Linked DNA regions of Homo sapiens: region 1 is linked to region 2. The links come from fine-mapping of genetic effects on gene expression. Tissue or cell type: whole blood. Region 2 holds a variant in brackets; the other region holds the start of a gene. All regions are shown on one strand. Distances are from middle to middle.

What was found. PIP is the estimated chance that this variant, and not a neighbour inherited with it, causes the effect.
Region 1: it holds the start of SRXN1, and the variant in region 2 is fine-mapped to the expression of SRXN1 in whole blood (INTERVAL, PIP 0.95).

The regions. Positions count from the first base shown.
Region 1 is chr20:650,334-656,224 of GRCh38, reverse strand. SRXN1 (sulfiredoxin 1) reads left to right here and starts at 3,025. Exons shown (of 2, transcript NM_080725.3): 1 at 3,025-3,249. The coding sequence starts at 3,040. LOC107985423 (a long non-coding RNA gene) reads right to left here and starts at 3,272. Exons shown (of 2, transcript XR_001754452.2): 1 at 2,751-3,272; 2 at 1-2,436. RefSeq lists a silencer at 2,588-3,147.
Region 2 is chr20:596,780-602,670 of GRCh38, reverse strand. No RefSeq gene overlaps it. Among named protein-coding and RNA genes, the nearest start is that of TCF15, 11 kb to the left of the region's middle. The variant TCAGG/G (reference allele first, on the strand shown) is at 2,838.

The DNA of each region.
Region 1 (5,891 bases), 54 kb before region 2:
AAACAGCAAACATTTATTGAGCACTTATAATGCGTTGTGCACTGTTTTAAGGACCTCACCTAACACCATCTCTCTTCACTCTTCCAACACCCCTGTGAATTAGGTGACATTATGTCCGTTTTACAGATTAGGAAACAGGCACAGACAGGTGACTGGCCCAAGGTCACACATCTAATAAAATAGTGCAATTTTAACCCAGGCAAGGTACAGAACTATAGGGGATGACCCAGTATCAAGTTTCCCTTTTGTTTTAGTTTTGGTTCCCTGATAGCAAGTCTGAGACTTGAGTGTAAGTCGTTTATGTGGGAGGTGATCCCTGGAAGCAGAAGTAAGGGGTGGGAGGAATGGGACAGAGGGTGTGTTAGTGAAGTCAGTTGTAGCAATAGGGCTGAGTACTTCTGGTCTCTGAGAAGGTTCCAGAAAGATCTGAATGGTCTAGAACACCTCTCTGAATCGTCCACCTGTGACAGCACAAGACTGGCATTTACTCACCGGCTCCTGCCCCCATTAGTGAATGGCCTGGCACCTCTGGAATGGGCAGAGCTCCCACAGGGATGCCCCATCTATCAAATGGGGATGGAGATAACAGACTCGTCTCATAAAGCTGTTAGGTTCCATGAGTTAATATATGTAAAGCGCATCAAACCATGCTGGGCACATGGAGAGCACTCAGTAATGTATGCTATGTATGACCTGAGGGAAGAGCGTTCCATGCACAGGGAACAGCAAATGTAAAGGGTCTGAGGCCAGGACACATTCGCTGTGGAAGAGGCACAGCAAGGAGGCCAGTGTGACTAGAGTTGACTCCGGGGCTTGAGGAGTGGAAGGTCAGAAGGTGTGAGCCACTGCATCCAGCCAGGGAAGGTTTCTTCACTCTTAAAAAGAGGCTCGAAGGGATGTCCTAACTTCCACTTGTGGACATTCGCATGTAATGATGTGATGTTTTGAGCTACAGTAGCCATCTTGGGACCATGAGGGGCACACCGCAGGATAACAGAACACCAAGGATGATGGCACAAAAGGATAGACAGAACCAGGGTCTTTTTTTTCTGAGAGAGTCTCACTCTCTCACCCAGGCTGTAGTGCAACGGCATGATCTCAGCTCACTGCAACCTCTGCCTCTCGGTTTCAAGCAATTCTCCTGTCTCAGCCTCTGGAGTAACTGGGACTACAGGCGCGCGCCACCATGCCTGCCTAATTTTTGTACTTTTGGTAGAGACAGGGTTTCACTATGTTGGCTAGGCTGGTCTCGAACTCCTGGCCTCAAGTGATTCGCCTGCCTCAGCCTTCCAAAGTGCTGGGATTACAGGTGTGAGCCACCGGGCCCAGCCAGAACTGGAGTCTTTGGTCACATTGTTCAACTGCCTCTTTACCAACCTTGGACATACCTACCTCCAAACATTTTATTATGTGAGAAAACAAACCTTCTTATTGCTTAAGCCATTTTGAATTGGGCCATAGATATCTTAACACAGAGAATTTGATACCAGGAAATGAGGCCTCCCTGGGTACACCATGATGATAGAATCAGGCCAGAGCTCCACTTTTCCACTCTAGAAACTGTTATCCTGCCATTCTTACTTCCTGTAATGAGGAAGATGTTTTAGAAGGGATAACTTCCCTCTTGATGAAATTCTCTAATTCTGAATAATTCTGGGGCTGAGGTGTGGGTGTCAGTTCTACTTCTTGAAATAAAGTATCATTTAGGTGCGCACGGGAATTATGTTTCGAAAGGGAAAGGCTGGAGTCTTGGTGTCAGTGTTCTAAGGTTTTGTGAGAGACTAAGAACCCAAAATAAATGATCTTCAACAGCAAAATGGATGTTATGCAATTCACAGAGCACTATGAGCACTCTCTCAATTCACACAACTTTGAGTGATGGGCAGCATGACTTCATTTTACAGACGGGGTTCAGAAAGTGTCAGCAACTGGTGGAAGGCAAAGTAGAAACTCCTGGCTCCCTCCTTCGTCTCCAGTTTTCTCCAGCTGGCAGGGTAAGTATGCATTTCTCCATGTTCGTGCCATTCAGGTTGAGAAGGAAGACAAGCAAACCAGACATGCTTGTCTTCGACCGAGTCTGGGATCGTCCACCTTCCTGCTTGGAGTTGGTGGTTAAGTGGCCCCACAGTTTGGACTCGTGTGACCTGACTTTCATTTCAGCTGACCTTGAACAGCGGGTCTATAACTGCACCTACTTCCAGTAGTGTTGTAATGACACAAACAGACAGTGTGGAACTTGAAGGCAGGGCCCACCCATTGTCAGCGCGACTCCTGAGGGCTCCGTGTGACAGTCACTGTTGCTGAACCAAGGCAGCCAACGGTGGGGTAGAAGGCGGACTCTGGAGCCAGACCGTCTGGATTTGAACGCGGATTCGGCCACTTACTAGTTCCGTGATCTTGGGTACATCACTTAAACCTGTGTCTCAGTCTCCTCTTCTGTAAAATGGGAATAACAGTCATACCTTCCTTGCAGGGTTGTTTTGAGGTTCAGATACGTTAATACACGTGCAAAATGTTCGGAACGACTCCAGACACAGCCGGCGCCAGACTGGAAGTGGAACCGCTGGTGGGGATCATAACCTCGCTGGCTAGGAACCCCAGCAGCGGGGCAGCAGCGCACCGCGGGCTTTGCCGACTCACCCTGGCTGGGCAGGTCCGCCGCGCTCTCCCCCGCCCCCGCCCCCGCGGCCTAAGTCGGCCCGGCCGGTGCGTCACCCGCGCCCCTCCCGCCCCGCGACCTGCAAACTCACCCTGAGTCAGCCCGCCCGGGCGTTTCCACTCCCCGGACGCCGCGCGGCGCAGGGGAGGCGAGAGGCGCCCCCCGGTGGAGAGCCTGAGCCCCGCGCGAGTCTGGCGGCACCTGGCGAGCGGAGCCGGAGTCGGGCTGGGGACCGCGGGGTCGAGGCCGGACCGCGGCGGGGTCGGGGGAGAAACGCGCGCTGCCCTGGCACGGGCCCCCCCCCCCGGCCGCGCGGAATGGTATGGCCCGGCCGGAGTTAAGGCCGGGGGGAGGCGGCGAGTCCCGCGGCGGCGGCGACGATGGGGCTGCGTGCAGGAGGAACGCTGGGCAGGGCCGGCGCGGGTCGGGGGGCGCCCGAGGGGCCCGGGCCGAGCGGCGGCGCGCAGGGCGGCAGCATCCACTCGGGCCGCATCGCCGCGGTGCACAACGTGCCGCTGAGCGTGCTCATCCGGCCGCTGCCGTCCGTGTTGGACCCCGCCAAGGTGCAGAGCCTCGTGGACACGATCCGGGTGAGGCCTCGGGGAGTCCAGCCAACCGGAGGGAGGGCTTCGGAGGAGGGAGGTTGCCGGAGGAGGGAGGTCGCTGCGATGGACGCGAGACGGACTGGTTCCGGGCCCAGCCGGAGCTCAGCCTCTGCTGTGTGACCTTGAGCAAGTAGCTGGGCCTCTCTGGGCCTCTGTTTCCTCACTTGAGCAAGGAGGGAATTGGGCGAGATAATTAAAGTAGTGATGATAACGCTTATAACGCTAGTGCTTGCAGTGGTCCAGGAACTGCAGGAAGTCCCTCAGTTTCCTATGCCAACCCTAGGAGGTAGATAGTGGCTCTTTTGCAGACGAGAACTGAGGCAGGGAAGATTTCAGCGGCTTGACTAAGATCAGGCGCTTAAAAAGTGACACGGCTGGAATTCACACCCAGGCAGCCTGGGCCCCACTGCCCAGCACATGGCCACCGCACTACCCGGAGATAAGCCGTGGGCTCTCATGGCTGTGACAGTCAGTGACAGTGGGACTAGGTGTGTCATATCTGCTGGGAGGCCCTTGTCTGAATGGGAAGTGGGAGAGGTCAAGGGTCAGCTCCACCACTGAGGAAGGGTGTTAAGAATACCGGAGTGATTCTGGCAGGAACTTGGGGGCCCCGCAAGAACAGGTGTCAGGTTAGGCCTACATAACGTTGTGTCCCCTTCCCCCGACCCTTGGAAGGTGAGCACATGAGATCCCTAAGCCCCACCCAGCACCTCTACAGCCACCCCCGATAACTTTCAGTCCTAGTATTTACACTAGTGTCCTCACTGCCTGGAGCCACTTCCCCAGACAACCACAGGGCCTGCTCCCCTGCCTGGTTCAGCTCTCTGCCTCCTTGATCACCCTTGGTCAGAGTCACTGGCCTCTCTAGCTCTCCCCTTAGCCCGAGATGTTTTTCAGGATACCACTTATGTCCACCAGAAATTATATTATACATCTATTTGTGTTGCATTTTATTTTCTGTCTTCCTGACCTCACGTGCACTCCACAAGGGCGAGGACCTCGTCCCATCTTATCTGTTGCCACAATAGTAGCACGGCGCCTGGCTGAGATGGGAAGGGATCTGCCATGCATGCCCTGTCCCACCACTGGGCTTTTTCTCCCGTTGAGAACCTCTTCTATCTCTGCCTTGTCGTTTCTCACTCTTTCTCGGTCTTCCTGTCTCAGTGTCAGGATCTTCCCTGACCATCCCTACCGGGTTAGGAGCTTCTGTGGGCCTGCAGCCACCTGTGTGCCCACCTGCATAGCTCTGATCTCACTGGCTTTTTTTTTTTTTTTTTAAGACGTTGTCTGGGTCTGTCACCCTGGCTGGAGTGCAGTGGCACGATCTTGGCTCACTGCAACCTCCGCCTCCCGGGTTCAAGCCATTCTCCTGCCTCAGCCTCCCAAGTAGCTGGGATTACAGGCGCCCACCACCACGCCTGGCTAATTTTTGTATTTTTAGTAGAGATGGGGTTTCACCCTGTTGGCCAGGCTGGTCTGAAACTCCAGACCTCAAGCGATCTGCCCACCTCGGCCTCCCAAAGTGCTGGGATTACAGCCCACTGGCTTTTAACGTCCTGTCTAGACACCTGCCTTCCGTGCTAGAACCGTAGGCTCTGAGGGCCAGAACCAGCTCTGCCTTTGCTTACATACACCTGTATTAGTTTTCTGGGGCCACTGTAAGTTACCACAAAGTTGATGGCTTAAAACAACACAGGTTTATTTATGGTCAGAAGTCCAAAATGGGTCTTACTGGGCTAACACCAAGCAGGGCTGCACTACTTTCTGTAGGCTCTAGGGGAGAATCCATTTCCTCGCCTTTCCCAGCTTCCAGACGCCACCCACACTGCTTGGCTTATGGCCTCTTCCTCTGTCTTCAAAGCCAGCAACATCAGGCCAAGGCCTTCTCACATCGCATCACTCTGACCTCTTCCTCTACTTCCTCTTCCAGTTTTAAGGACCCTGATAATGGCATTCGACCCATCTAGATAACCTTGGATAATTTCCGCATCTCAGGATCCTTACCTTAATTCTGTCTGCCAAGTCCCTTCTCCCATGTAAGGTAACACATTCAGAAGCATTCGGGCGTGGACATCTTTGGGAGCCATCATTCTGGCCATCCACCATCGTGCCTCCAGTACCCGGCACAAGGCCTGCCTGGCACGGCTGCCCTCCTTAGTGCTCCACTAATGCCCGGTAGGCATCAGCTCACTGACTCTTCATCAGCAGCCCTCTAGGATGTTTTATTCCCAGTTTACAGGTGAGGAATGGTGTTCAGAGGGCTGTGTGCCCCAGCTGCTGTGGAGAGGAGCTGAGATCCAAAGTCAGGTGTGCCAGGTTCCAGAGCTCAGGCTTGTGACTGCTGCACCTTACTGCTGAATAATCATTTGTGGAATCATGAGAGAGAACCCGTGGACCAGCAGCAGGAGGCCTTCCACGCCGCTCACACTTAATGGGGTCTCCCCAGAGTGCTCTACCCTGCACCCGTCCTGCCCCAGACTTTCCCTGTTTAGAGGATGACCTACTCTCCACCTGGCTGTGTGGGCCCCTAACAGGAAGTCAACTTAGATTCTCCCTTTTCTCTTGCCCTTGGATTCACCCCTTCTGCCAGACCCCTTGGGCCTGCCCCGTAAATGTGTCCCAAACCT
Region 2 (5,891 bases):
CTTATCCTGTGTCCCAGCGTGGCTGTGCTTCCCCCTTTGGGAGCTGATTAGGAAAGCACATTGCTCCCCCTGCGCCTACCCTCCCAGGTACAGCCAGCCTCTGGCAAAGCCACAGGAAAAGGACTGTGGCCTTGTCAATGGCAGGAAGCCTGGGAGTGGGGGCAGAGCAGACACTTGGGTGCTCTGGCTGGAGGCCCACTCCGCCACCAGATTTGCTGGGTGACCCCAGAGATGTTGCTTGACCCCTCTGGGCCTCCCTGGCTCAGTCTCTAACTAGTAAGAGCAGCTAGAACAGAAAGATAAGTATTTGTTTTGCTTTGTGAGATAGTTTTTAATAGACCCTGTATGCACTGGTAAGTAATCCAAGTTGTATCAAATGGTATGCAGTGAAAAGTACAGACCTCCTCAGGCCCCTCCCCAGAGGCAGCTTCCTGAGTGTCCTTCCAAAAAAGCTTCTATACTGATAACTGTTTCTGAAAAAATATTTATAGGTTTCTCTGCCTGTGCTTTCATTGTAAAACAAATTCAAAATGCTATAAGACTCTAGAAATATCACTTATCCCAGAGACAGCCACAGTGAAGACGATAATCCCACCGAGTATTTTTTGTTGTTTTGTTTGAGATAGGGTCTCACTCTGTCACCCAGGCTGGAGTGCAGTGGCACAGTCATAGCTCGCTGCAGGCTTAACCTCCTGTCCTCAAGTGATCCTCCCACCTCAGCCTGCGGAGTAGCTGGAAATACGGGCATACACCACCAGGCCTGGCTAATTTTATTTATTTGTTTATTTTGTAGAGACAGGTTCTTACTATGTTATGCAGGCTGGTCTCCAGCTCCTGGGCTCAAGCGATCCACCTCAGCCTCCCAAAGTGCTGGGATTATAGGCATGAGCCACTGCGCCCAGCTCTGCAGCGTTTTTGTTAAACTAGCACACATACGCTTAACAAATCATTTAAACCATGCTAAGTTTACGCTTTTTTTTTTTTTTTAAGATGGATCTCACTCTGTCACCCAGGTTGGAGTGCAGTGGCGTGATCTTGGCTCACTGCAACCTCCACCTCCCGGGTTCAAGCGATTCTCCTGCCTCAGCCTCCTGAGTAGCTGGGAGTACAGACGTGCACCACCACGCCTGGCTAATTTTTGTATTTTTAGTAAAGACGGGGTTTCACCATGTTGGCAAGGCTGGTCTCGAACTCCTGACCTCAGGTGACCCACCCATGTTGGCCTCCCAAAGTGCTGGGATTACAGGCATGAGTTACTGCGCCCGGCCAAGTTTACACTTTTTATGGAAGTATAAGACACATTCAGGAAAGTGCACAGGGTGTAAGGGTACAGCTCAATGGATTTTCACAAGCTGAGCACACCTGTACACCCAGCATGGAGATCAAGAAATGCAATTAGCAGCTTCCCAGGAGCCAGCCCCTCTTGCACATCTACACATACCGGTTCTTTCCTTTGAATGAGACACAAAAAAGAATAAACTGACAATAAGTCTCCTTCTCTCCCAGCCACCAGCTCCAGTCCCCAGAGGCAATTGCTATGTTAAGGTAACCAGGATCCTATGGATTCCGGCAGAGATGGTCTGCATATATAGGCAAATTACATAGATATTGTTTTTCCACACAAGTGGTAGCATTTCACACACTCCTCTCTGCACTGGATTTTTTTTTCTTAACTGTACTTCTTGGAGACCCTTGGTTGCTTACAGAGCTGTTTCACACCTTTTCATAGCTGCATAGTGCTCCATTATGCATATTTTGCAGCTTGCTATCTTCCTGGTAATGGACAGTTAATGCCCATGAGCCTTTGTGAGCTGCAAGGTCAGCCCACACACGTGACCGGGGAGAAGCACAGGTGTGGTCTGCATATATAGGCAGCTCCTCTGGGGAACATTTTGTAACATTGTCCGCTCCCCCAGCATGCCTGTCGCCTCCGGGATGGTCCAGCCCAGCCAAGCTTCTCCAGGCCAACTTGAGGCCACAGGAGTAAAGCTGCTCAGGGAGAAGAAATCCAGGACTGAAGGGGTTGGAATGACCGACTCAGCCAGGCCACCTTGGACCCCAAAGGGTTACACTCTCCCTGCAAGTCTTGACACATGAAGCAGCAGCACAAGAATAATCTCAGAGTTCATCATTTCACAATGAAGAAAGTGAGACAAGACAGAGGGCAACCTGCCTGGGGTTCCCCAGCAGGTCCTTGGCCCTGTTGGGACACCAAGAACACAAATCTCCCTCCTTGCCATGCAGGGCTGTTTTCTCTGACTCCACAGTTATGAGCAGGAAGGCCTCAGAGGTCACCCATGGCAACCTGAAGCTCAGAGAGGAGCGGTGATGGGCCACGGTTGCACAGCATCTGGAGCTGAGCAGGGCTGAGAACACAGGACCTCTTGCACCCACAGCACTTCAGGTTCCCCTCATTGTCCCAGGCCACTCCCATTTTATGAGGCTTTTATTAGGTTAAAAAATGAAGCACTACAAAAAGAGAGTGCTGAAGACTATGGCATATTTGGTAAGTTAACTTTTTTTTTTCTTTGAGACACGGTTACACCCTGTCACCCAGGCTGGAGTGCAGGTGGCACGATCATGGCTCACTGCAGCCTCCACCTCCTGGAGTCAGGTAGTCCTAGCGCCTCAGCCTCCTGAGTAGCTGGGACTACAGGTGTGCACCATGATGCCCAGCTAATTTTTTATTTTGAGGGGGTTTCGCCATGTTGCCCAGGCTAGTCTCAAATTCCTGGGCTCAAGCAATCCTCCAGCCTCAGCCTCCCAAAGTGCTGGGATTACAGGTGTGAGCCACTGTGCCTGGCCTGGCAAGTTAACTCTTAACTACCTCCACACAG[TCAGG/G]AGCGTGATGCATTATTGTGGAACACCATATAATTAGAGGATTTATAGAAACATTGGTTCATGGGACGTACATATGAAGTTGGATGTCTTTGTTCAACCCCATCTGTGTCTCTTACGACTGTATATTTTACCTCGTGTAGTTGTGATATCAAGTATAGACCTGAACAGGTAAATGCGATACATGACTTTGAACTGGATCCTGTACTGCAGAGGGGAAAATGTGACAGGGGACCTTCTTGGTAGAGTTGACAATTTTTTTTTTTGAGACATGGTCACACAAAATTGGGATATGAACAATAGATTAAGGTATTGCATCAAAGTTAAATTTTCTGTATTTGCTAACAGCACCCTGATTGTGTCAGAGGATATCCTTGTGCTTAAGAATTACATCCTAGGCCGGGCGTGGTGGCTCAGCTTGTAATCCCAGCACTTTGGGAGGCCGAGGTGGGCGCATCACCTGAGGTCAGGAGTTCGAGACCAGCCTGGCCAACATGGTGAAACCCTGTGGTGGCAGGCGCCTGTAATCCCAGCTACTCGGGAGGCTGAGGCAGGAGAACTGCTCGAACCCGGGAGGCAGAGGTTGCAGTGAGCCAAGATCGCACCATTGCACTCCAGCCTGGGTGACAGAGTGAGACTCCGTCTCAAAAAAAAAAAAAAAAATACATCCTGAAGTACTATTAAGGAGAAGTATGATGTAGGTAACGTGCTCTCTCAAATGGTTCAGAAGAGAAATAATATATGTGTGAGAGAAAAGGATAGAGTAAATATGACAAACTTAAAATGTGGTGAATCTGAGTACAGGGTATATGGGAGTTCTCTGCACCACTTTTGTCACTTTTCTGCATGTTGTAAATGATTGCAAAATGAAAAGTTAAAAAGAAGTTGGGATCTTGGCCTACTGTGATGCGAGGGCTGCCAAATGGTGTCCTGGCCCCCTCTGATGCACCCTGGCTTTAGCTTGTCCAACAGACGATGGAAAATATCCCCAGCAGACCCAGGTGCCTCTGCTCGTGACTCTCAGGCCCCTGTGCCCCTTAGGAGGCTAAGGTGGTCCCATCCCCCGAGTCTCCTGCCACCATGATTTATGTCCCTATGAGCCTCAGCAGCTGTGAGCACAGGTCCCACTGGGCAGCCGGCTGGGGGGGCTGGCGTTTGCTTCTCAGCGTGTCTAATCCAGACCAGATTTGCAGACCCCATGGGCCTGGGATAGAGCTCCCAGGGGGCTAGGGTCAGAGGGCAGGCCAGCAGGGCCTGGAAACCAGGGAGGCACTCAGGATGAACAGGCTGCGAGACAGAAGACCTAGCCTATTCTAGGTTGGCCACTGCTCCTGTGTGACCCAGGGTAGGCGTCTGGCCCTCTCTGGCCCTTGCTTTTCCTCACGTCAGCACGGCCAGCAACTTTGTCAGCTGGGACACACTGGCCTTGTGGGAGGGAAGGCTGATAAAATCTAGGAGTTGTTTTTTTCTGAATGGCTTGGAAAAATGCCTGACTCTTTTGAGGACCTACTACGTGTCAGGCCTAGGCTATGCACTTTACATAAAATAAATACAGCTTCGCGGGGGGCAGTGGCTCATGCCTGTAATCACAGTGCTTTGGAAGGCGGAGGAGGGCAGATCACTTGAGGCCAGGAGTTCAAGACCAGCCTGGCCAACATGGCCAAACCCCATCTCTGCTAAAAATACAAAAATTAGCTGGGCATGGTGGTGCGTGCCTGTAATCCCAGCTACTCAGGAGGCCGAGGCAGGAAAATCCCTTCAACCCAGGAGTTGGAGGTTGCAGTGAGCCGAGATTGCACCACTGCACTCCAGCCTGGGCAATAGAGTAAGACCCCGTCTCTAAATAAATAAATACATACATACATACAGCTTGCTCAAAAGCTGGTTAGATATGTATTATTATTGCTCCATTTTATAGATGAGGAAACGGAGGCACAAGGAGGTTAAAGAACTTGGCCAAGGTGACACAGTGGCTGGTGGATTTGAATCAGATGTTCTAGCTGCAGAGCCCCACTGGGCTCTCAACCACCACCCCCACATGACCTCACCAGGTGCGTGCCTAGTCCTGATGTTGATGGAACTGACTAATCCAAGGCACTTCTCTGAGTGACATACAGAGATGGCCTCACTTGCAACAAGCCACATAGGTAGGTACTGTTGCTATCCCCATTTCACAGACTAGAAAACCAAGCCCAAGGGCACCCAGCTAGGCAATGGCACAGCCAGGATTCCAACTGAGGGGGTCTAGCTCCAGATCCCACAGCCTGCATCACAGCAGGAGGGTAAAACTCAGCAGGAGGCATGGGATAGAGTGTAACATTGTAGACCAACATAAGGCTGGCAGACTTTGTCAGTCAGTAAGTCCGTCAACAAACATGTTTTGAACTTCTCCATGAACCACACAAGGCTCTAGGGATGATCAGAGAATAAGCCAGATGTAGTACCTGACCTCATGGAGTTTACGGCCTACTGAAAAAGCAGGCTCTGAGCAAATAATAAAAATGGGATGGGTGCTTCTAAGTTATGTGGGAACGCATGGCTGGGAGACCTGTGTCGTCATTAGGAATGATGCTTCCAAGGTGAGAGAAGGCTTTGCCGAGTGTGAATGGTTCTGCAGCTTCCAGGCCACCCCTGCATCAGTATGAATGATGGGGCACCTGCAGGACCTGGGTCTCCCCTAAACACAACCCCTGAATCCCCAACATATCTCCTTTGAGTGCCCAGAGCAGCCCCATGAAGCTGTCAAAGCAACAGAAGGCTGGTTGGACAGAAGTCGAAAATAAAAGCAAACACTTACCTAGCACCGCCTCAGTGCCAGGCACTGTTCCACGGCCTGTAACTCATTTACTCCTCTACGACCCAGTGAGACAGGCTGTCACTATCCTCACACGGCCATCAAAGGACAGAACCGGGATGTGGACTGAGGCTGGGTCCAGAGCCCACTCTCTTCACCTCCCTGCTCTGCTGCCTCTGTGCCAAATGCTGAGCATCCCGAGCGCCTGGTGGCACCGGCGCGTTGTGGGTGCCTAGCAGATACTCGGGAAGGACCAAGA